7 linked regions of the Homo sapiens genome follow. The protein of the gene in region 3 purifies or fractionates together with the protein of the main gene of each other region. This does not show direct contact. Each region holds a gene or a part of one and is shown on either strand. Other genes may lie near its edges.

Region 1 (2,439 bases), on a different chromosome or scaffold from region 3:
TTTGAGGCAGAGTGTGTAAATACAAGCTTTTAATGAAAGACCTCCCTCCACTCATCAACTGGGATATACCCGACAGCCCATTACTAATCATCAATAACCAAGAGATCCCTAAGCCGTGCCAACTAACACACAGTGGGAGCCTCACATGAGAATGCCCACCCTGACTGCTCCGGAGCTGGTGTGCCCACTACTTAGCACAGCCACATGGCCCCACAACATCAAGCCGCATCGCCCCCAGAGAGAACTGCAGGCCCTGAAAAAATGGAGGGCGTGAACGAAGACACAGCGCACCACCAGGTATGACGTGAGAGACAACAGAGCGAACAGGACCCGGGTATAAATGAGCTACAAGAACTCAGACTTTCCATCTGCTTACACCTGAGGGAGGACTACTACAGGCTCTTGCAAAGGCCTCGTTAAAAGGGTTTTCCCTAATAATGAAGATATCTCTGAGAATAAGGAAAAATAATTTAAAAGCCAGAAGGCAAATCTCTGAATAGGTCACCCCGTTCTTCCCCTGTCTAGCTGTAGGTCTTGCTGAATTTCTCTGAATTCTCTCTCTACACGTCACCTGATATAACCCCTACAGCTAATGTTAGATATCCACGGCCTTAGCTTGGGGATGGGAGATGACGCCATTGTGCCTGTGGGGCCATTTTTGGTGCTTTTTTCTGGGAAGAATGTTGAATATAAACAAAGCTGACTCTGAACCATTTCAGGCCTCCACACAGGGTGAGAGCAACATTCCGAAAAACAGTGGTGATGGAAAGTCTCCAAAGGTGCCAGGAACAGAGCCGTGAATGATCTGTGGGCTGTGGAAGGTTGTGAGGTGCTGCACTGTGTTCAGTAAAGGAACATCTACCATACATGGGCAACCCCTGTAGATCTGGAGGTTCTTTGAGAAATCAATCTGCTTTGGACAAGTTAATAGTAGAAGTGCCCTTGGACTATACAGTTAAGAAACAACACAAGTTTCTCTGTGGTTTGGGGACCATCGTTATACAATGAGGTTGTTGTATTAGGTGATTTCTTTTTTTTTTTTTTTTTTTTTTTTTTGGGGGGACAGTCTTGCTCTGTCGCCTAGGCTGGAGTGCAGTGGTGTGATCTCGGCTCACTGCAGCCTCCACCTCCTAGGTTCAAGTGATTCTCCTGCCTCAGCCTCCCAAGTAGCTGGGATTACAGGCACATGCCACCATGCCCGGCTAATTTTTGTATTTTTAGTAGAGACGGGGTTTCACCATGTTGGCCAGGCTGGTCTCGAACTCCTGTCCTCATGTGTTCCACCCACCTCAGCCTCCCAAAGTGCTGGGATTACAGGCGTGAGCCACCGTGCTCGGCCGCACTAGGTGATTTCTAAAGGTCTGTCCCAGCCTCTCTAAAAATACTCCGATGACAGTGGAGGTGATGAGCTTAAAAATAAAAAAGCCATTTGGAGAGAAGAGACAAATGAAGAAATTTGGGCTTGTTATTTTCTTCAAATTTCTGAAGCTATTTGCTCTTTAACTTTGTGGGTTTGACCTAAAGAAACTGGAATTTTGAGCTGAGAAGGGAAAATGACTCAGCTTCTGGGCTAATTCTGTTTCCAAGAGTCTAAATGAATCCAAGACAATTTCAGGCTTATCCTTCTCTGGCTGTCTGCATCTTCTTACTTTAACAGGCATTTTGACCACTGCACCATTCCTCTTTCAACCTCTAGTTTACCTTTCTGATCCCTTCTCTTGACTCCTGAAGTCTGCTGCTTTCCACCTGAGAGGTTTTGAAGGAAAAGCCTTTCTTTCACCAGGTTTATTCTTATCAACCTAATTCAGCAAAGACAACACACACTGCATTTTTATCAGTCCCTGCAGGCTGATCTGCTTTCCAGCTGAAATATCTGAATTGGGATGTGTGAAGAACTATAAAGGTGTGAAATGGTTTTTGTTTGATTACATAAAAATTAAATATTATAAAATTTTGAGAGGGCAATGTCCCTTGACTTTGCTGGAGCAGGAGAGATGAGGAGATCCTTCCATTTACAGGGTCACAAATTCAAATGTCTCCAAGAGTGCAGCAGGCAAGTAAGCAAGTGACATGGGACTACGGCACCTGGCGATGTCACTAACAGCAGGCAGCCACCCCTAAGCCCCTGTGATGCCACCACGTAGGAACGCAAGCCTAGTGTTGCCAGACTAAACATGTCTTTCAAGAGAAACCAGAAATTCATGTTTAATATGAAATCTCCCAATTTTTCAATGTGGCAATCAATTCAAATATCGCTTTGGAAACATTGTGTAGTCCAATTCTGGCCCTAATGGAGAAAAAGGTTTCAGACTTTCTCTTCTGCTGTAAACAACAGTAAACTTGGGCAAAATATGTAAAGCAAGTATTTTCAGGCCACAAACAGCACAGGGCTGTAACCCTTTTAAAAAAGGAGCTGGGCGTGGTGGCTCACACCTGTAA
Region 2 (3,500 bases), on a different chromosome or scaffold from region 3:
CTCGGCCTCCCAAAGTGCTGGGATTACAGGCGTGAGCCACCGCACCCAGCCACGAGGCTTTTCAAGTAAATTGCCTGTATATGACTTTCCCCTTACACTCTTGATTTTAGAAATTGGCCCCAGTATAAAATGCTCCTCCAATGAACAAGACTCTACTGATGTACAGGACACTGCACATCAAATACCTAAAAGATAAAGCCTTACAAACAAAGAGGAAATCGTACATTGGACCTTCTGGGGAGAGAGAAGGCAGTTACAGCAACCAACTAGACCTGTCCCACCAGCTAATTGGCAATTAAAGTTTTGCACACGCACCTCTTCATCCATAAAATCTTCAGGACCAAGAACAGATTTGTCTGCTCTGTTCTGTCGTGAAGACACAAAGGTAGAGGGTGTCCATCCTGAAAAAAAAAGAGTTTAGAACTTTACAATCCTAGAGAGTATTTGGGTCTATGAGTAAATGATTAAATAACATGTATGGACTTGAAATTCCCAATAACTATAAACTCTTAGCTACTTCCCATCTCAGTGCTTATATAGACGTAATTATTCCACATAAATTTCTTATTAATCCCTGTATCCCCTGATGTAAAACTTAGTGGATACATTAAGGTTTCCCCATAAGAAAGTGAAACCAAGAGATATAGAATTACACATTGAAAGTTAAACTGTGAAATGAACACAAGCAGATCTGAGCTGACAGATGCAAGGTCACCTTAAAATGCAGGACGTGAGACCAGCAACCTCCACTGGCATATTAACATATCTAAAGAAATGATGTCATCGCTTCTAGGCCTTTTGGCTAAGATCAAGTGTAAAGATATGATGTCAAGGTGTTTTAATCAGTCAGAGTGGATAAAGAGAGAGTAACAGAAGGAATCCAGGCAACATTCACAGTACCCTGACCAAAGACTCAACCTGGCAGGTCCAAGGGCAGCGGCTCTGCCAGTCCCCCAGTTTCAACAGACACTGGAATCCTGTAACCAATGGCCTTGTTCCCTGACCACGGTTACCGAGCATGTGCCACGTCCACAAACAGGGAATGCTCTGGAGGTCACATATGTCTGTAACCTCTGCACATAAAGTTGTTTAGTTTTCTCTAAGAGGGTTGCACCTCCTTCCTGATTCTCTCCAAGGGCCCTGTGAGCTGAGGCATCTGGGGAAGGTCTACTCTCAGTAGGTGCACCACTGCACTAAAGCCTGGGCGACAGAGTGAGACCCTGTCTCAAAAAATAAATCAATTAATTAAATAAAATGGTAAGGCCGGGCATGGTGGCTCACGCCTGTAATCCCAGCACTTGGGGAAGCTGAGGCGGGTGGAACACTTGAGGTCAGGAGTTCGAGACCAGCCTGAACAACATGGTGAAACCCCATCTCTACTAAAATACAAAAATCAGCCGGGTGTGGTGGCGGGCACCTGTAGTCCTAGCTACTCGGGAGGCTGAGGCAGGAGAATTGCTTGAACCCAGGAGGCGGAGGTTGAAGTGAGCCGAGGTCATGCCATTGCACTCCAGCCTGGGCGACAGAGTGAGACTACATCTCAGGAAAAAAAAAAAAAAATTATAAAAGATCTAGCCCATCTTTTTCTTGATAATTGCTATGTGAATTAATCAGTTCATCTTCCGTGCTCACTATGGCAGCACATATAATAAAATCAGTTCATCTTCCATTCATAACTGAGATATAGAAAGCCATTTCTTCCAGTTCAAAAAAATGCTTCTAGATTAATATATCTTAAAACATACAATACTTTAAACAACTTGGCATTTATAAAAGTACATAACATAAAAGATTTAACTGACTTTTCCCCAGGTAGAGAGCACTGAGGAGCCAGTCTTGCTGTGGTCCCCAGTGTCTGAAGAGGGCACCTGGTGACTCTTCCCTCAGCACTAACGCCATGCTGGCTCCTTAACCTCTCTGACCCTTGGTGGCATCATCTGCAAGATCCCTGTGACACCTGCCCTCCTCACTCACTCAGTCACGAGAGACAGTCAATGATTAACTGAAAGACTCTGTTTAAGAGTATTTCGTGAATGGCAAGACACAATAAAAACCAAAGTCATTATTATCATTTAATCATCTGATTAGGAGGTATGCATTTTTTTACAAAGTGAAAGAAAACTCTTTAACCATAAGGTTGCAATCAATGAACAAGATACAAGTTGACTCTGGAAACATCCAAATATCCAAAGAACACAAGAGGTTACAGTGTATGTTCAGAGAAAGCTGAGCGCAGTGGCTCACACCTGTAATCCCAGCACTTTGGGAGGCCAAGACAGGCGGATCACTTGAGGCCAGGAGTTAGAGACCACACTGGCCAACATAGTGAAACCCTGTCTCTATAAACACAAAAAAAATTAGCTGGGCATGGTGGCAGGCGCCTGTAATTCCACCTACTTGGGAGGCTGAGGCAGGAGAATCGCTTGAACCCGGGAGGCGGAGGTTGCAGTGAGCCAAGATCACACCACTGCCCTCCAGCCTGGGCAACAGTGCAAGACTCCATCGCAAAAAAAAAAAAAAAAGCAAAGGTGGCCGGGTGCAGTGGCTCACACCTGCAATCCCAGCACTTTTGGAGGCCAAGGTGGGCAGATCACTCAAGGTCAAGACTTTGAGACCAGCCTGGCCAACATGGTGAAACTCCTGTCTCTACTAAAAGTATTTTTTTTTAAATTAGCCAGGCATAGTGGCATGCGCCTGTTATCCCAGCTAATTGGAAGGCTGAGGCAGGAGAATCGCTTAATCCAGGAGGCGGAGGTTGCAGTAAGCCAAGATCACACAACAGCACTCCAGCCTGGGCGACAGAGCGAGACTCTTGTCTCAAAATTAAAAAAAAAAAAAGCAAGGGTGAGGGAGAATCAATATTTTGATCATTTGCTTTAATGGTATAATAGCTACAATTAGGAAAATGATACCTTCTTTTGAGCCAACAGTATTGAAGTATCCAGCAGAGAAACCTCCACTAAAGGCCCCGTGGAATCGTTTATACCTTCCTTTTTCATCTCTGACAGTCTGATCCTGAAGAGGGATTGGTTTCTTTGGTCTTTCACCTAAAAAAAAAAAAAAAAAAAGTTTTTTAAATGAAAAAGAGAGGAGATGGTCGGTTCAAATTTAGGGAAAATGTCACTTTTTAAATATCATAAATTGTTTACTTCTTATAATTCAAATATAATCATTTAAATTGTTATTCCTAGACTTTACTGCTTTATATAGCCTAGAAAACAATATATTTTATAAGCTTATGTAATAATGATTGCCCTCTTTTCCCACTAAATTCCATTACAAAACCTGGTCAACATGGCAAAATCCCGGCTCTACTAACAAATACAAAAATTAACCGGGCGTGGTGGCAGACGTCTGTAATCCCAGCTACTTAGGAGGCTGAGGCAGGAGAATCGCTTGAACCCGAGAGGTGGAGGTTGCAGTGAGCCGAGATCACACCACTGCACTCCAGCATGGGAGACACAGCGAGACTTCTCCCCCAAAAAAAAAAAAAAAAATTA
Region 3 (3,500 bases):
GTGAGCCGAGACTGGGCCACTGCACTCCAGCGTGGGTGACAGAGGAAGACTCTGTCTCAAAAAAAAATATATATATATATAAATATATAAAATATATAAATATATAAAAATATATATAAATATATAAAAATATATATATGAATATATATGGGGTGTGTGTGTATATATATAATTCTGTATATTGAACTTCTTTTCTGTGATCTTGATAAATTCACTTATCCATTTTAGAAGTCTTTCTGTAGGTTCCTTGGGATTTTCTACATAGAAAATTATGTAGGATTTTAGGTGGGCATGGTGGCTCATGCCTGTAATCCCAGTACTTTGGGAGGCAGAGGCGGGTGGATCACCTGAGGTTGGGAGTTCGAGACCAGGCTGGCCAACATGGCGAAACTCTGTCTCTAGTAAAAATACAAAAATTGGCCGGGCATGGTGGCACATGCCTGTAGTCCCAGCTACTCAGGAGGCTGAGGCAGGAGAATCGCTTGAACCCAGGGGACAGAGGTTGCAGTGAGCCGAGACTGCACCACTGTACTTCAGCCTGGGTGACAGAGCGAGACTCCATCTCAAAAAAAAGAAAATTATATAGGATTTTCTATGTTACAATAAAGACAGTTTTACTTATTATTTTCTAATCTTTATGCCTTTTATTTCCTTTTTTTACTTTACCGCACTGGCTAGGATTTCCAGCATCACGCTGAATATAGTGGTGAGAGTGGATGTCTTTGCCTCGTTCCTGATCTTAAGAGGAAAGCATTCAATCCTTCACCATTAAATAGTTTATTGGCTATGGGTTTCTTATAAGTACTTTATCAGGGCCGGGTGTGGTGGCTCATGCCTGTAATCCCAGCTCTTAGGGAGGCCAAGGTGGGTGGATCACCTGAGGTTGGGAATTCGAGACCAGCCTTGCCAACATGGTAAAACCCTGTCTCTACTGAAAATACAAAAATTAGCTAGGCGTGGTGGCTGGCACCTGTAATCCCAGCTACTCGGGAGGCTGAGGCAGGAGAATCACTTGAACCTGAGAGGCGGAGGTTGCATTGAGCTGAAATTGCACCACTGCACTCCAGCATGGGTGACAAGAGCAAAACTCCGTCTCAGAAAAAAAAAAGAAGTGCTTTATCAGGGTAAAAAGTTCCCTTTTATTCCCAGTTTGCTGAGTTCTTATCATGAATAAACGTCTAATTTTGTCAAATACTTTTTCTGCATCTACTTAGATCATACAGTTTTTCTTCTTTGGAATGACACAGTGAATTAACTTATTTTTGAATGCTGAATCTACTATGTTTTTCCAGAATAAATCCTCCTTAGTTGTGATGTATTATCCTTTTTATACATTGCTAGGTTTTGTTTTTTTTTTTGAGACGGAGTCTCGCTCTGTCGCCCAGGCTGGAGTGCAGTGGTGCAATCTCGGCTCACTGCAAGCTCCGCCTCCCGGGTTCCAGCGATTCGCCTGCCTCAGCCTCCCAGGAAGCTGGGACTACAGGCACCTGCCACCACGCCCGGCTAATTTTTTTGTATTTTTAGTAGAGACGGGGTTTCACCGTGTGTTAGCCAGGATGGTTTCGATCTCCTGATCTCACGATCCACCCACCTTGGCCTCCCAAAGTGCTGGAATTACAGGCGTGAGCCACCGCGCCCGGCCATACATTGCTAGGTTTGATATGCTAATGTTTCATTAAAGATTTTTGTCTATATTCATAGGAAATATTGTCAGTAGTTATTTCTCATAATATCTTTTTCTGATTTTAGCATCAGGGTAATGCTGATACTAAAATTCACAAAATGAGTTACAAAGTGTTCCCTCTTCTTCCATTTTCTTGAGGAAACTATGTGGAGTTGGTATTATTTCTTCCTTAAATATTTAGTAGAACTGACCAGTGAAGCCATCTGGGTCTGGAATTTTCTTTTAGAAAGGTATTTAGAAATGAATTCAATTTCTTTCCATCTTTTTTTTTTTTTTTTTTGAGATGGACTGTCGCTCTGTCACCCAGGCTGGAGTGCAGTGGCCCAATCTTGGCTCACTGCAACCTCTGCCTCCTGGGTTAAAGTGATTCTCCTGCCTCAGCCTCCCAAGTAGCTAGGATTACACGCATGCGTCACCATGCCTGGCTAATTTTTGTATTTTTCATAGAGACAGGGTTTCACCATGTTGGCCAGCCTGGTCTTGAACTCCTAACCTCAGGTGATCCACCCACCTCCACTTCCCAAAGTGCTGCAGTTACAGGCGTGAGCCACGGTGCACAGCCCCAATTTCTTTAACAGATATAGGACTACTCAGGTTTACCATTTCTTTTTGAACTGTGTCTCTAAACAGTAGAATTATTGACACTGTAGTTTATTTAGGATAATTATTTGTAGGAGGCTTAGCACATCCCTGGCCTCTACCCACTATGTGCCAGTAGCACCCTTCCAGTTGTAACAATCAAAAATTTCTTCAGGGCTGGGCGCAGTGGCTCAAGCCTGTAATCCCAGCACTACGGGAGGGTGAGGTGGGCAGGTCATGAGGTCAGGAGATCGAGACCATCCTGGCTAACATGGTGAAACCCCGTCTCTACTAAAAATACAAAAAAAAATTAGCTGGGCATGGTGGTGGGCGCCTGTAGGCCCAGCTACTCAGGAGGCTGAGGCAGGAGATTCGCTTGAACCCGGGAGGCAGAGGCTGCGGTGAGCCAAGATCATGCCACTGCACTCCAGTGTGGGCAACAGAGCAAGACTCTGTCTCAAAACAAAACAAAACAAAACAAAATGAACTATTTCTCGGCCAGGCACTGTGGCTTACACCTGTAATCCTAGCACTTTGGAAGGCCGAGGAGGGTGGATCCCCTGAGGTCAGGAATTGAAGACCAGCCTGTTCAACATGGTGAAACCCTGTCTCTACTAAAAAATTACAAAAATTTGGCTGGGCGCCATGGCTCACGCCTGTAATCCCAGCACTTTGGGAGGCCGAGGCGGGCGGATCACGAGGTCAGGAGATCGAGACCATCCTGGCTAACACGGTGAAACCCCATCTCTACTAAAAATACAAAAGATCAGCCAGGCGAGGGGGTGGGCGCCTGTAGTCCCAGCTACGCGGGAGGCTGAGGCAGGAGAATGGCGTGAACCCCGGGGGGCGGAGCCTGCAGTGAGCTGAGATGGCGCCACTGCACTCCAGCCTGGGTGACAGAGCGAGACTCTGTCTCAAAAAAAAAAAAAAAAAAAAAAATTAGCCAGGTATGATGGAGGGTGCCTGTAATCCCAGCTACTCGGGAGGCTGAGGCAGGAGAAATTGCTTGAACCCAGGGAGGTGAACCCAGGGAGAAATTGCTTGAACCCAGTGCAGTGAGCCGAGAACTCGCCACTGCACTCTAGCCTGGGTGACAGAGCAAGACTCCATCTCAAAAAAAAAAAAAAAAAAAAAAAAGGACCACTTCTCTTAAGTGAGCTTTGGCAGTTTGTGTCTTGTAAGGAATTGACCTATTTCATCTAAGTTGTCAAATTTATGGGCATAACATTGTCTGTAA
Region 4 (4,127 bases), on a different chromosome or scaffold from region 3:
CTTCCAGATGTGAGATTGATAAAAGCAGGGAAAATTCAGTAGAAAGAGAAAGCCGAAGACCATGCTCCATGTGTAACTCATGAAGTGATTCAAAACAGAAAGCTAGCTTAATTCAAATCAATACATTTTTACTAAGTATGGGGTATTGCGAAAAAGCATATGGCCCTTGCCTTTTAGGAAATTGCCGTATTTAGAGGCAAAGCAAGACTTGCTTATATTCTCAAAAGATCCCCACTCGTTACCTTATTTCCCCTTTAAACCGCTTTACCATATTTGAGATCATGTTATTTGCTAACTTGTTTGTTGATTTGTTTTCCTTCCTTATCAAGAGGCAAGCCCCTTAAGGGCGGGGATTTTTGTCCTTTTTTCTTTTTGCAACCCCAACCTCTGCAATAGTGCCTGGCACAATGCAAACAGCTCAATAATAATTCGTTGAAAGAAATGGAGAATTAGATCGTAGGGTGAAATAATCTTAAACTCTCTGGCCTTGAATCTCTCTAGCTCGCCCAAGATATCAAACATTGGGGGTCAGGCCGAGAAGAGGAGAGGAACAATTTTTTCCTGTTAGGTCAGTGGTTTTTAGCCTTTGGTTACATTAGCATCACCTGGGGGCATCTTTAGACATCATCCCGAAGCCCAGACCGCACCCAGGACTAAACTAGAATCTCCAGCCAGTGGGTCTCAAGCATCAGTTTTTTGTTGTTTTTTTTTTGAGACATTGTCTCCTTCTGTCGCCCAAGCTGAAGTGTAGTGGTGCGATCTCGGCTCACCGCAACCTCCGCCTCCCAGGTTCAAGCGATACTCGTGCCTGTCCCCCGAGTAGCTGGGATTACAGGCGTCTGCCACCACGCCTGGCTAATTTTTGAATTTTTAGTAGAGACAGGGTTTCGCCATGTTGGCCAGGCTGGTCTTGAACTCCTGACCTCAGGTGATCTGCCCGCCTAGGCCTTCCAAAGTGCTGGAATTACAGGCGTGAGCCACCGCGCCCGGCCAAGTATCAGTATTTTGGAAAGTTGCCCAGGAGATTCCAATGTGCAGCCAAGGGGAAGAACAGACGGAGCCAAGGCGCGGGGATCAAGGATAAAGGAGACAAGCTCCACTAGGCAGAGCCGGGCCTCTTCTCGACGTCACGCCCTGGCGTTGCTGCGTGGTTCGTTTACTCAACCGAGAATAGGCCGGTCCTCGCTGTAGCAACACGACCCGCACAACTGATTGAGTGGGAAGCTCCGCAGAGGCGGACTCCAGCCTCCCGCCAATGAACGGGTAGGGTCCGCCCGGCACAGCGCGGCCACGCCCCCTGGACGCCGCGGTCCCGCCCCCGGACACCGCTGTCCGGCTCCCGGGCTGTCCTCAGCAAGGGCGCGGTCTGGTACTCGTGCGTCTTTTATCGCCTCAGTTTCCCTCCGCCGACTAGCGCGCGGGGCCCGGTTCTCCATCGCGCGCACGGCAGCCTAGCGCAATGAGGCGGGCAGCACTGCGGTAGGTGGCGGGGCGTGGAAGGGGCTGGCAGGGCGGTAGCCTGGGGTGCCATCGTCTTCCCCTAGAGCTTCGGGCTGGCCCCGGCGGAAGAAGTGGGCCACGCATGGGCATTTGGGCTCTATGATAAGGGGCGCTCGCCCACTGTACCTCCGACCGGACATAAGCCCGCCGGCCTTTGGTTGGGAGAACCTCGCCCCCACTTTGGCGACTTCTAGCACTGAGTTTGATATTAAAAGCAAAGCAGCACTTTTAAGGGAGGAAGTTGGGTGTTCCCTAAAATTCCTTTGGCCTTGCTCATCCGGGGTGTGGTTGGTAGCCGCGTCGGGGTAGCCCCTTGTCAGAAAGATAATATTTGGAGTTCTATGTTACCTCTAGCCCTTCATCTTCCTTTGGAGAACATTTTTAGGATTAAATGCTTGACCTACTTCGGCTCTTACTTAAGTTTGTTGTAACATTGGCAGAGATTACAGGGTACCTTTTGGCTCCCAGGACCCTAGGACTGTGCGTCTAGGACCCTGGTGCCAATTTGAACTTAACTTTAATGAGCCGCAAAGCCCTTATAAGAGGCTGGGTGCTTTGATTGGGCCACGTGGGTAAGGGAGGATGCCTTTTTGTATATGTAATCTTCCCAGCTGGCACAGTTAAGGCCTGAGGGCCTTAGACTCCAGAGCGTGTCTAGCTCTCCCTAATCCCTTTCACCCGAGCATGCCACCCTTTCCAAGTTTTCTGCCTGGCTGCATCCCAGGGGGCTCACACCTGCTCCAGTTTCTGAAGTTATCTCGCTGCCAGTGGGCCTGTCCCCCTGATGTGACTCATAGTGCTTTTGACTCACATTAACCCCATCAATTCTCTTGGGGGTCCTGGATATCTCTCTCTCTCTCTCTCTCCCTCTCTCTCTCTCTCTCTCTCTCACTCACTCACTGTTCCTGGGGACTTTGTTATCAGTTGTAAGGGTTCTGTCTTGTTTATAGTACTTAAAAACAAACAAAAAACCTTTGTTAAACTATTTGAAGGCAGACTGAAAGTCATTATGAGAGGGGCCACAGTTGACTTTAGCTTGCAATGTGAAAGGTCTTCTACAAAAGCTCCATGGTCTTGTTCAGGTGCTTTCTCTTATAACCCTGTGTTCCTTTCTTGAAAATTCTATTGAGGCCGGGTGTGGTGGTGCACGACTGCAGTCCCAGCGTTTTGGGATGCTGAGGTGGATGGATCACTTGAGGCCAGGAGTTCGAGACCAGCCTGGCCAACATGGTGAAACCCCGTCTCTATTAAAAATACAAAAATTAGCCGGGAGTGGTGGTGCATGTCTGTAGTCACAGCTACTTTTGGAGGCTGAGGCAGGAGAATCGCCTGAACCGGAAGGCAGAGGTTGCAGTGAGCTGAGATCGCGCCCCTGCACTCCAGCCTGGGCAACACAGTGAGATTCTGTCTCAAACAAAAAACTATTGAACCTTAAGCGGATAATCTCTTAGTGTCTAGTGAGAGGAGGAGTTCACAAATGAATATAGACTGAGATGATTAGGTTCTTTGACTGGTGGGCAACCTTTGTAGCTTCTTTTCTTTTTTAGACTTGCAAGAGGCACCTTTGTTTAGTCTCTAAATAGAGGTTATTTCCTCAGAGTGGAGGGCATATGAGTGGTATTGCCTGTTATTGCACTGAACACTCTTCCTTGCCAACTGCTGTAAGCTTGGGACCCAGGGCTGAGCCAGGGTGAGTTATGTGACTCCCCAGGTAGGCCATGGAGGCCTTGAGTTTTCTTTTTTTTTTTTCTCTTTGAAATACTTTTTTTATTTCTTTGGGATATATGTCCAGAAGAGAAATTGCTGGATCATATGGTAGTTATATTTTTAATTTTTGGAGGAACTGCCTCATTATTTTTCAAAATGGCTGTACCAGTTTACATTTTCACCAATAGTGTACGAGGGTTCCCTTTTCTCTACATCCTCACCAACACTTGTTATCTTTTGTCTTTTTGTAATAATCATCTTTTTATTATTATTATTATTATACTTTAAGTTTAGGGTACATGTGCACAATGTGCAGGTTAGTTACATATGTATACATGTGCCATGCTGGTGTGCTGCACCCATTAACTCGTCATTTAGCATTAGGTATATCTCCTAATGCTGTCCCTCCCCACTCCCCCCGCCTTGAGTTTCTTGATCTCCTTTGATTGGAAAGGTTCAGTTACAAGGTCCTGGGATTTGAGTGTTGCAAAGGCCTCTCCACAGTAAAGGCCTAGAGGTTTTGCTATAAGTAAGACTCCTGAGGGCTTATCAGGAGATAAGCCAGTAACCCTGAGGTACTGAAGTGTTGAGTATTGATTAAAACCATTCTCCCACCTCCTCCACCTCAGTGCGGTGTGTGTGTGTGTGTGTGTGTGTGTGTGTGTGTGTGTGTGTGTGTATGTATTGGGGGAGATCGGAAGAACTGGGCTCTATCTGGACTCTGCTGGTGTGCCTGTTGACTGGCACTGGGGGAAAGTCGTCTGAAACTGGGGCCTCAGTTTCTTAAGGAGGTTGGTTTGAATCAGAATCTTCAAATATAGGGGGATCTGAGGGTACAAAAAGGGTCTGTGCACCTCCTGAAATAGTATATACCATTGTGTGTGTGAGCAAAAATGTATTCCAACCCTTCCCACGCCCGC
Region 5 (3,500 bases), on a different chromosome or scaffold from region 3:
ATATATTTTTTTTTTTTTTGAGGCGGAGTCTTGCTCTGTCACCCAGGCTGACTGCAACTCCGCCTCCCGGGTTCAAGCAGCTCTCTGCTTCAGCCTCCTGAGTAACTGGGATTACAGGTGCCCACCACCACACCCGGCTAATTTTTGTATTTTTAGTAGAGATGGGGTTTCACCGTCTTGGCCGGGCTGGTCTTGAACTCCTGACTTCATGATACACCCGCCTCGGCCTCCCAAAGTGCTGGGATTACAGGCGCGAGCCACTGCACCCGGCCGACTTACTTATATTTTTAAGTATCGTGTAACTTATTAAAAATAAGTTAGATATTTTGATGGAATTGGAAAGGAGGGGTAAGCTGAAAAAAGTGTGTATTTTTAATTAGAAGAACACTAATGAAGCATGTGTCCATAGAAAATAGATGACGTGCCCTTTCCAAATGTATTGGAAAGCAGGAGAAATGGCCTTTTGTTAGTTTTGTTTGTTTGCTTGTTGTTTGGGGTGTTTTTTGGTTTGTTTGTTTGTTTGTTTGTTTGGATGAAGTCTTGCTCTGTTGCCTAGGCTGGAGTGCAGTGGCGCCAATCTCAGCTCACTGCAGCTTCTGCCTCCTGGGTTAAAGCAATTCTCCTGCCTCAGCCTTCCGGGTAGCTGGGATTACAGGCACGTGCCACCACGCCCAGCTAATTTTTGTATTTGTAGTAGAGACAGGTTTTCACCATGTTGGCCAGGCTGTTCTCAAACTCCTGACCTCAGGTGATCTGCCCGCCTCGGCCTCCCAAAGTGCTAGGATTACAGGCATGAGCCACTGCACCTGGCCTTGCTTGTTGTTTTTTAAATACGTTTTACTGTGGTAAAATATCTAACATAAAATTTGCAGTTTTAACCATTTTTAAGTGTACAAACCAGTGGCATTAATTATATTCACAGTGTTGTACAACCATCACCACTGTCTATTTTCACAGCTTTTCATCACTCCAAGCAGAAACTCTGTACCGTTACACAGTAACTCCCCATTCCCTTCCGCCAACCCTGGTAATCTCAAATCTACTTTCTGTTTCTATGAATTTGACTATTCTAGGTATTTCATATAAGAGGAATCATAATGCCTATGATGTTTTCAAGGTTCATCATGTTGTGGCATGTATCAGCACTTCATGCCGAAGTCATGGTCCGTTATATGTAGACCACATGTTGTTTATCCATTCACCTGTGGGTGGACACTCGGGTTGTGTCACTTTACAGCAAATGTGAAGTGGTATCTCGTTGTGGTTTTTATTTTCATTTCTCTAATGACTAATGATGTTGAGCACCTTTTCATGCAGTCTTTTGTTCGTTTTTGAGTTTTTTCTAGCATGATAGGCCTCACAGGTATTTGCCACTGGCCCTTAATGAGCAGATTATTTGGTCAAGAAAAATCACTCTCCTGTCTATAGCATCACAGTGTGTAGGGTTTAGTCACAGAGTAGGCTCCTCCCAGGTGTTTCTTATTGTCTGTGTGCATGAACACTCCCCCAGATTTCCAAGCCAGGGAGGAAAAGCCGAATTGCTCTTTTGTGTGGTGTCACCACCTCATCCTCAGCCCCATTTCATCCTGTCACTCTCCTGGTTCTACTTCTGCTGACAGTTTAAGTTCCTGGGTTGAACTTCATGCTCATTTTCTTGTGATAACCAGCTCCAGCAAAAGTATAGCTGCAGGATAAAATTGCAATACTAGTAGTGTTGGTGGTAGTAATGAATACTAGCTAACATTGATTATTTACCATGTGCCGGACACTGTATATGTGTTTTATATGAACTGACTTGCTTAATCTTCATGACCGACAGCTGTTCTGCAGATGAGACAACTGAGGTGTGAAATCACTTGGTCAAGGTTACACAGCTTAAATAAGCAGCAGCACCAGGATTCTGTTCAGGCAGCCAGGCCCAGGCCCTTCCCCAGCAAGCAGTAAGCCCCTGCCACGTGCTGGTGCTGGCTATGCCCAGCCACAAGCCATCTACCACATGTGAGAGGCTAAGAACAATCTATCTTGGCCGGGCTGCAGTCCCAGCACTTTGGGAGGCCGATGTGGGTGGATCACTTGAGGCCAGGAGTTCGAGACCAGCCTGGCCAACATAGTGAAACCCCATCTCTACTAAAAGTATAAAAATTAGGCAGGGCACGGTGGCTCATGCCTGTAATCCCAGCATTTTGGGAGGCCAAGGCGAGCAGATCACGAGGTCAGGAGATGGAGACCATCCTGGCTAACACGGTGAAACCCCGTCTCTACTAAAAATACAAAAAAATTAGACGGGTGTGGTGGCAGGTGCCTGTAGTCCCAGCTACTCGGGAGGCCGAGGCAGGAGAATGGCGTGAACCTGGGAGGCGGAGCTTGCAGTGAGCCGAGATCACGCCACTAGACTCTAGCCTGGGCGACGGAGCGAGACTCGGTCTCAAAAAAAAAAAAAAAAAAAAGTATAAAAATTAGGTAGGCATGGTGGTTCACACCTGTATCCCAGCTACTTGGAGGCTGAGGCATGAGAATCCCTTGAACCCTCGAGGCAGAGGCTGCAGTGAGCCAAGATCACGACACTGCACTCCAGCCTGGGTGGCAGAGTAAGACTGTCTCAAAAAAAAAAGAACAATCTGTCTTGTAAGATAGAAGTTACAAAAGTGAATGGAAAGGGACTGGTAGCTAATGCTGTTGTTGTAAATACCCTCTAAAATATTCCATTTGGGGCTGAGCACAGTGGCTCATGCCTGTAATCGTACCACTCTGCAAGGCTGAGGTGGAAAGACTGCCCAGAAGTTTGAGACCAGCCTAGACAACATAGTGAGACCTTGTCTCTACAAGAATAAAATAAAACTAGCCAAGCATGGTGGCTCATGCCTGTAGTCCCAGCTACCTGGGTGGCTAAGGTGGGAGGATTGTATAAGCCTGGGAGATTGAGGCCACGGTGAGCCAAGATTATGCCACTGCACTCCAACCTGGGCAACAGAGCAAGACTCTCTTTAAATAAAGAAATATATAAAGTAATAAAATGTTCCATTTGGTTCTGAAATATTTTATTAGGATAGGTACAGTGGCTCACGCCTATAATCCTAGCATTTTGGGAGGCCAAGATGGGCAGATCACTTGAGCCCAGGAGTTCAAGACCACCTTGGGCAATATGTGAGACCGTGTCTCTACAAAAAATACAAATATTAGCCGGGCATGGTGGCGTGTGCCTGTAGTCCCAGCTACGTGGGAGGCTGAGGCAGGAGGATTGCTTGATCCCTGGAGGTTGAGGCTGCAGTGAGCCATGATCACATCACTGGACTCCAGCCTGCGCAACAGAGTGAGACCCTGTCTCCAAAAATATATCAATATATGAGGTAGGCCAGGCACAGTGGCTCAAGCCTGTAATCCCAGCACTTTGGGAGGCCAAGGTGGGTGTCAAGAGTTCGAGACCAGCCTGACCAACATGGTAAAACCCCGTCTCTACTAAAAATACAAAAAATTAGCCAGGCATAGTGGCGTGTACCTAT
Region 6 (3,500 bases), on a different chromosome or scaffold from region 3:
TCCCATCACTCTCTTAAAGGTCACCCTATATTTGCCAATGTTCTCCTGAAACTATGTTATCTTCAGTAGATTCCATGAAGTTGACAATATCTTTACCTCTCAAACAGTCCTCTAAGCACTTTTATGTCTTTGTTCCTACCCCCTAGATGAAGATATACCATCCCCACCCACCAAGGTACTATCATCAACCTGCTTCCCTTCTGATTGTATTTCTTCCTTAATAATTTGATCCTCTTCTCAGCTCTATTTTTCATCATTATGGGACCAACTCTCCAAAGCCTATACTCTTCAACACTGATACTCTAGAAAGAACTCTCGGACCAGCACAGTGGCTAATGCCTGTAATCCCAGAACTTTGGGAGGCTGAGGCAGCTGGATCACCTCAGGTCAGGATTTCGAGACCAGCCTGACCAACATGGTGAAACCCTGTCTCTACTAAAAAATACAAAATTAGCCGGGCATGGTGGCACACACCCGTAACCCCAGCTACTCAGGAGGCTGAGGCAGAAGAATCGCTTGAATCCGGGAGGCAGAGGTTGCAGTGAGCCAAGACTATGCCATTGCAATTCAGTCTGGGCAACAAGAGCGAAAGTCCATCTCAAAAAATAATAATAATAACTCTCACTTCCAACTATATGTTGGATGTCCTACCAGTATTTCAAGCTCACTATCACATGTTCACTACCAAGTTCACTGCTTGATCCTCCTACTGGATCCAAAAAATCTATTTCACAGAAATAACCCAAGTACCTTAGCTGCTCTTTCCTTTCCTGGCACTAAATTCATATAGTAAAATGGCTGCCAAATATCTACAGTAATGCCCTTAATCCAAATCTACAAACTATACCAAGAACTGCATAAGTCAGGCTCATGTTAAAATCTACAACAGAATTTCAAAATGCGTATCTGATATGTGTAGTTAAAACTAAACAGTGCTCACTTCAGCAGCACATATACTAAAACTGGAAAGATAAAGAGAATATTAGCACGGCACCTGCACAAGGATGACATGCAAATTCATGAAGAGTTCCATATTAAAACAACAAAACAAATAAAGTCCTTCCTTCAATTTTTGCTTAAAGAAGTCCCACAGGATTAGTGCAAAATAAGACTGGTAACGGGAGGGCCATAGCCAAATAAAGACTAAAGGCCAAGATGAACTATGATGGGGAAGGAGAGAGAGGACATTTACAGCAAAGGAAATGAAGAAGTTTTCTAGAGAAATAAGACCAACAAGGAGGAAATGTGAAGAATAGTAAATTCAACTAAAAAAAAAAAAAAAAGCCGAGCACAGTGGCTCACACCTGTAATCCCAGCACTTTGGGAGGCTGAGGCAGGCGGGTCACCAGGTCAGGAGATCGAGACCATCCTGGCCAACATGGTGAAATCCCGTCTCTACTAAAAATACAAAAATTAGCTGGGTATGGTAGTGCGTGCCTGTAATCCCAGCTACTCGGAAGGCTGAGGCAGGAGAATCACTTGAACCAGGGAGTCGGATGTTGCAGTAAGCCGAGATCATGCCACTGCACTCCAGCCTGAGCAACAGAGCAAGACACTGTCTTAAAAAAAAAAAAAAAAAAGAGTTGAATGATCTAAGAGGCAGCAGACTGCCAGCAGGTGGGGGGAAAACAAAAGCAAAATTTGACAGTGCTTTTGAAAACAGCCAGACATTGAAAGAGCCACTAAAAGCAATACAGAGGGCTGTGGAGGAAACAACTTTAAGCTGGAACTGAAGAGTGTACCTAGAACCAGAAAAAGGAGAGTAAAAAAAGAGTAAAAAGCCCCCAAAGAACAGCACTAAAAACCTGAGTTGCCAAAACCTTAGAGTGAAACCTAGAGCTATAAATAGTTGGGAGGCTCATTAACAAGTAAGCTGTATATACCTAGCAAGATTGTATGGTAAAGCCACATACATGAAATTTCCTTTGTGTGAACATAATTTATACCTTAAGTATCCCATATACTATAGACAAGGAGTTTATCCCTCCAGTTGGCTAAACAAGTGTGTACCGGGTTGTGGGAACGCAACGATATTGGGGCTAAGTGGTAGAAATAATAAAGAAAAAATGCCACTGTCCTAAAGGCATTGTCCTAAGGGCACAGCAGCACATATACAGACTCTGGGAAAAAACCCTCCAAACCCCATTATCTCAGGCTGCAATCACTGAAAAATCTAGCCAAAAATTTCCTGGGAGACTAATTCCTGAGAACACTATATTATGTTCATTACAAATACAACAAATATCGGCCAGGCGCGGTGGCTCACGCCTGTAATCCCAGCACTCTGGGAGGCCGAGGTGGGCGGATCACGAGGTAAGGAGATCGAGATGATCCTGACTAACACGGTGAAACCCTGTCTCTACTAAAAATATAAAAAAAATTAGCCGGGTATGGTCACACACGCCTGTAATCCAAGCTACTCAGGAGGCTGAGGCAGGAGAATCACTTGAACCCGGGAGGTGGAGGTTACAGTGAGCCAAGATTGCGCCACTGCACTCCAGCCTGGGTGACAGAGCAAGACTCCGTCTCAAAAACAAAAAACAAAAAACAAAAAAAAAATACAACAAGTATCAGCTTACCCAGATAAGTAATGTTTTCAGCTAATTCACATCCATCAGCATCCTGGAAATATTTTACTGTTTCCTGGTTATTAGCACCAAGCACATATGTCTGAATAGGAGCTAGTGAGGGAAACAGACATGACACCATATAGTTACCAGATCTGCTTTAGAACTTAAGATATGCCTCTCTATAGAAAAAATACTTATATTAAAAGTAAATAGTCCATGCATTCACATTCCCCATATTTAGCAATCCTAAATGTGGAACAGCTATCCACTAAGGATATACTACACCCAACCTTGTAGCTTGGCTATTTTATTTATTTTATTTTTTTTTTTTTGAGACAGAGCCTTGCTCTGTCGCCCAGGGTGAAGTGCAGTGGTGCAATCTCGGCTCACTGCAATCTCCGCCTCCCAGGTTCAAGCAATTCTCCTGCCTCAGTCTCCCGAGGAGCTGGGATTACAGGCATGCGCCACCATGCCCTGCTAATTTTTATATTTTTAGTAGACACACGGTTTCACCATGTTGGCCAGGCTGGTCTTGAACCCCTGACCTCAGGTGATCCACATGCCTCGGCCTCCCAAAGTGCGGGGATTACAGGTGTGAGCCACTGCGCCGGATAGTCTTAATAATGAAAAGCAACTTAAATTCTTAAATACTGAAAATAACTCTTAAATTCTTAAATAATGAAAAACAACTCTGCAAGAACTCTGGCCCTTGAAATTTTATTAGAAATCATATGTTAAATAAAAATAATTTCTATACCTTTCTTGATGCCAGTCTTATACTCCTCCCATTCAGCATCTTGGGTGGAGCCAAAGAAATTTCCTACACACAACAGCAGCTAAAATGAGTTTTTTAAACAGATATATGAGATTTTAAAATATCAAACAGTACATAATTGATAGTAATATTCAACTAGTTATTTAATAGTTTCA
Region 7 (3,500 bases), on a different chromosome or scaffold from region 3:
TTTTCAAATTTATTACTTTTTCTCATAATTTCTTCTTTTGCCTTTAAGTTTAGAAGGAACTCCCTCACTCTCAAATATAGTCATTTACCATCTTAGTATATTTTATAGTTTCATTTTTACATTTTTTAAAATTTTACCTGAAATTTTTTTGGTGTATAGTGAGAGGTGAGGACTTAACATTCTTTTTGTAAACAGCCAGCCATCTAGCATCATTTATTAAGTAATTTTTCCTTTCCCTACTGGGGATATTTCAAACCAGTATACTCTTTCTTAAATACAGAAGAGCGGCTCTGCATTTTAGCTTTGTTAAATTCATTTGTCAATTTTTTTTTTTGAGATGGAGTTTTGCTCTTGTCACCCAGGCTGGAGTGCAATGGCGGCTCACTGCAACGTCTGCCTCCTGGGTTCAGGCGATTCTTCTGCCTCAGCCACCCAAGTAGCTGGGATTACAGGTGTTAGCCACCGCACCTGGCTAATTTTTGTATCTTTAGTAGAGACGGAGTTTCACCATGTTGGTGAGGCTGGTCTCAAACTCCTGACCTCACGCAATCCGCCTGCCTCAGCCTCCCAAAGTGCTGGGATTACAGGCATGAGCCACTGTGCCTGGCCCATTTGTCTATATATGAGTACCACACATTTAATTATTTTGCTAAATAATAGATTTTAATAGCTAAATTTTTTAGAAATGATAAAATTAGAATCAGTCTTCCTTCACAACTTACCTGGTTGCACTTTTTAACCACATCTGGCCCAGGTGTGGCATTGAGAAGTGCTATAATAAGGTAACGATTTAGCAGCTTCCCTAGTCCTAGTTCTTGCAAGGTGTCATCTGTAAGGAGTCCATTCCAAAGAAGAATATTGCGGAAGAGCTAAAATAAAATATCAAGTAAATATGTACCTTTTCTCCAAAGAGAAACTGTAATAGTCTCTAACAAACATGAAGAGTTGGTCAAACTAAAATTCTCACTACAATTAGCCCTGTTGGAACTGTCAATTTTAGAATACAATATCTCTGAATAAATACTTGATTCTTTCCAAACTCCATGTATTTGCTCATCTTATTTTCATTTTCTAGGATAACCATCCCCAAATCTATCTCAAATAACTTCACTAGAGCCTTTCCAGATCAATAATCTTCCTTCCCAATCCATTTTCTCTCAAAGCCGGGGGCCATCAAGTATAAGACCACAGGACCACGTGATTCATAAAGAACTACTGTCAAAACTAGGGCCGCCATTACCAACATGTGACCTTGAGAAGGCAATCAACGCTGAGAGCTTCATTCCTCTGATACATAAAGATTTATAATCACCTTTGAGTTTGAAGATAACTTGGATTAAGTAACCATAATAAATTCTAATAAAATATTGGTTGTCCTTTCCCTCTACTAAATTCAGATCTTTCTGTGAATTTTAAGGTGTTTCTTTTTTTGCAGTACTATATTCATTACTCTGAGTGCTGAACTACATGCTGTTTTACTAAAATGTAATGCTTTTTCACATTTTATCTCATTGTTGATGTTGTTCCCTCTTCCCAGAAAGCCTTTTCCCTGATTCAACCACATGACAAATATTAATTCACACTATTAAAACTACTCTTGGTGAGGTCACCTATATCCTTCTAATTGTCAAATCCAATAAACAGTGTTTCAGTCTTTCTCTTAATACTCTTTGGTGGCATTTAACACTCTTTTCTTCATTCTTGAAAATCTTTCATTTAGCTTCCTTGAGGCCATTCTCTTGTGATCATCCTAAGGCTCATAATTGATTCTACAGATTCCCTGAAGCCTCCATGTTCTCCTCTTCTGTTAGTATTTCCCGAGGTTCTGTCCTTGGCCTACTTCTCATGCTTCATCCAGTCTCCTTACGCAGCTTGCCATTCATGACCATGGCTCCAAATATTACCTACAGGTAGTGGACTCCCAAATCTCTAGCTCAGATCTGTCTCCTGAAATTCAGACTTATGTATCCAACCACCTCCTAGACCTCTGTATCTCTATTTGTCCCACATATATCTTCATTATGTACAAAATAGATCTTATCTTCCCTTGATCAGTTATCGACTCCTTTCAATGCTTCCTCCCAAACATTGTTTGAACCTTCTTCTCCTTCTCATCCCTACTGCCACTGACTTAGCAATAATTTTAAGGCCAGGGGTTAGCCAACTATATAGCTTGTGGGTTAAATCCATCCTGTTGCCTGTTTTTATAGGGTCCGTGAGCTAAGAATGGTTTTAACACTTTTCAAGGACGTTTTAAAACTGTCTTTAAACAAAATATTTTGTACCATGAGGAAATTATATGACATTCAAATTTCAGTGTTCATAAGTTTTATTCAAACAGCCATGTTCATTTGTTTATGTACTATGACTGTTTTTGTGCTACAGCGGCAGAGTTGAGTAATTCGACAGAGACCATGTGACCACAAAGCCTAAAATACTATCTAATTCTTATAGAAGAAGTTTGTTGTTCTTTGTTCTATAGTAAACAGGATTTTTACAAAAATTGCCTTTTCATTTTTGCAGTTTTTGCTCACCTTTAGGCCTGACCAGAACTGTCTTTCTTGGAACTTTGAATGAGGTGATGTTTTGTTTTCTACAGCACTAATTAGAAACAAACGAAAGAGAAGAGAAAATGCAAAGAACTATTAGTCTTTCAGAACCAGAGTTTAAGATCAGACTTTCTTTTAAACCAACCAAACTAAGCCTTAATGGAATATAAATAGAGATTGTTTATTTTATTTTATAAATAAAATATATATTTATTTATAAAATATATATTTATATATTTATAAATATGTTTATAAAATATATATTTATATATTTATAAATATGTTTATAAAATATATATTTATATATTTATAAATATGTTTATAAAATATATATTTATATATTTATAAATATGTTTATAAAATATATATTTATATATTTATAAATATGTTTATAAAATATATATTTATAAACAAATAACTAATATATCACATTCATACATCTGAACCATGTGAATGCATTATCTAAAACATTATAAACAAAGTTTACCAAGGCAGAATTTTTACATGTAGACATCTCATGATTCAAAATGAATCAGAAAGCTTTGAGGTTCCTTTCTTCCCCCTCCATAAAGCTCCTCCATCCTGTCACTACTCACTGGATTGCTACAGTTCATGCATCATTATAACTGATGGCTTCTTAGCAAAGTTATGATCATACATCAAATACTCGTTTTATAATTTAAAGTGACTGCAGAATTTACAGGTGCAGTTTCTCGTTCCTCAGCATTGTGCTTCCTCTGTGCTAGGCCCTGTTGTGTTCTGAGCATTCTCTTCATCTCCCTAATATCCTGTGAGGTAGGCACTAATTTTATCCTTATTTTATAGATGAGAAAACAAGTGCATAAAAATACCTACTAACAGTGGACGTGTGCTCTTTACCACTCTATATCACCTGCTATGTTCCTAGGATATATGTAAAACCAAAACCAAAACCAACCAAACAAAATTCAT

Evidence for each region.
Region 1: the proteins of ISY1 (region 3) and DHX35 purify together in Homo sapiens (affinity purification with mass spectrometry, with the first as the bait; one large-scale study listed by BioGRID). This does not show direct contact.
Region 2: the proteins of ISY1 (region 3) and GPATCH1 purify together in Homo sapiens (affinity purification with mass spectrometry, with the first as the bait; one large-scale study listed by BioGRID). This does not show direct contact.
Region 4: the proteins of ISY1 (region 3) and ACOT9 purify together in Homo sapiens (affinity purification with mass spectrometry, with the first as the bait; one large-scale study listed by BioGRID). This does not show direct contact.
Region 5: the proteins of ISY1 (region 3) and CPSF3 fractionate together in Homo sapiens (co-fractionation; one large-scale study listed by BioGRID). This does not show direct contact.
Region 6: the proteins of ISY1 (region 3) and CWF19L1 purify together in Homo sapiens (affinity purification with mass spectrometry, with the first as the bait; one large-scale study listed by BioGRID). This does not show direct contact.
Region 7: the proteins of ISY1 (region 3) and GCFC2 purify together in Homo sapiens (affinity purification with mass spectrometry, with the first as the bait; one large-scale study listed by BioGRID). This does not show direct contact.

What each region holds. Positions count from the first base shown.
Region 1 is NC_000020.11:39,035,344-39,037,782, reverse strand, and holds part of DHX35 (probable ATP-dependent RNA helicase DHX35), read right to left. Parts: intron 1-2,439. UniProt on the Homo sapiens protein: May be involved in pre-mRNA splicing.
Region 2 is NC_000019.10:33,087,681-33,091,180, reverse strand, and holds part of GPATCH1 (G patch domain-containing protein 1), read right to left. Parts: intron 3,048-3,500; coding exon 2,913-3,047; intron 402-2,912; coding exon 316-401; intron 1-315.
Region 3 is NC_000003.12:129,151,064-129,154,563, forward strand, and holds part of ISY1 (pre-mRNA-splicing factor ISY1 homolog), read right to left. Parts: intron 1-3,500. UniProt on the Homo sapiens protein: Component of the spliceosome C complex required for the selective processing of microRNAs during embryonic stem cell differentiation. Required for the biogenesis of all miRNAs from the pri-miR-17-92 primary transcript except miR-92a.
Region 4 is NC_000023.11:23,740,477-23,744,603, reverse strand, and holds the start of ACOT9 (acyl-coenzyme A thioesterase 9, mitochondrial isoform a precursor), read left to right. Parts: upstream 1-1,327; 5' UTR 1,328-1,459; coding exon 1,460-1,479; intron 1,480-4,127. UniProt on the Homo sapiens protein: Mitochondrial acyl-CoA thioesterase. Catalyzes the hydrolysis of acyl-CoAs into free fatty acids and coenzyme A (CoA), regulating their respective intracellular levels. Regulates both mitochondrial lipid and amino acid metabolism.
Region 5 is NC_000002.12:9,444,154-9,447,653, forward strand, and holds part of CPSF3 (cleavage and polyadenylation specificity factor subunit 3), read left to right. Parts: intron 1-3,500. UniProt on the Homo sapiens protein: Component of the cleavage and polyadenylation specificity factor (CPSF) complex that plays a key role in pre-mRNA 3'-end formation, recognizing the AAUAAA signal sequence and interacting with poly(A) polymerase and other factors to bring about cleavage and poly(A) addition.
Region 6 is NC_000010.11:100,257,639-100,261,138, forward strand, and holds part of CWF19L1 (CWF19-like protein 1), read right to left. Parts: intron 3,407-3,500; coding exon 3,328-3,406; intron 2,682-3,327; coding exon 2,580-2,681; intron 1-2,579.
Region 7 is NC_000002.12:75,669,416-75,672,915, forward strand, and holds part of GCFC2 (intron Large complex component GCFC2), read right to left. Parts: exon of another isoform or gene 2,901-3,500; intron 2,602-2,900; coding exon 2,535-2,601; intron 870-2,534; coding exon 723-869; intron 1-722.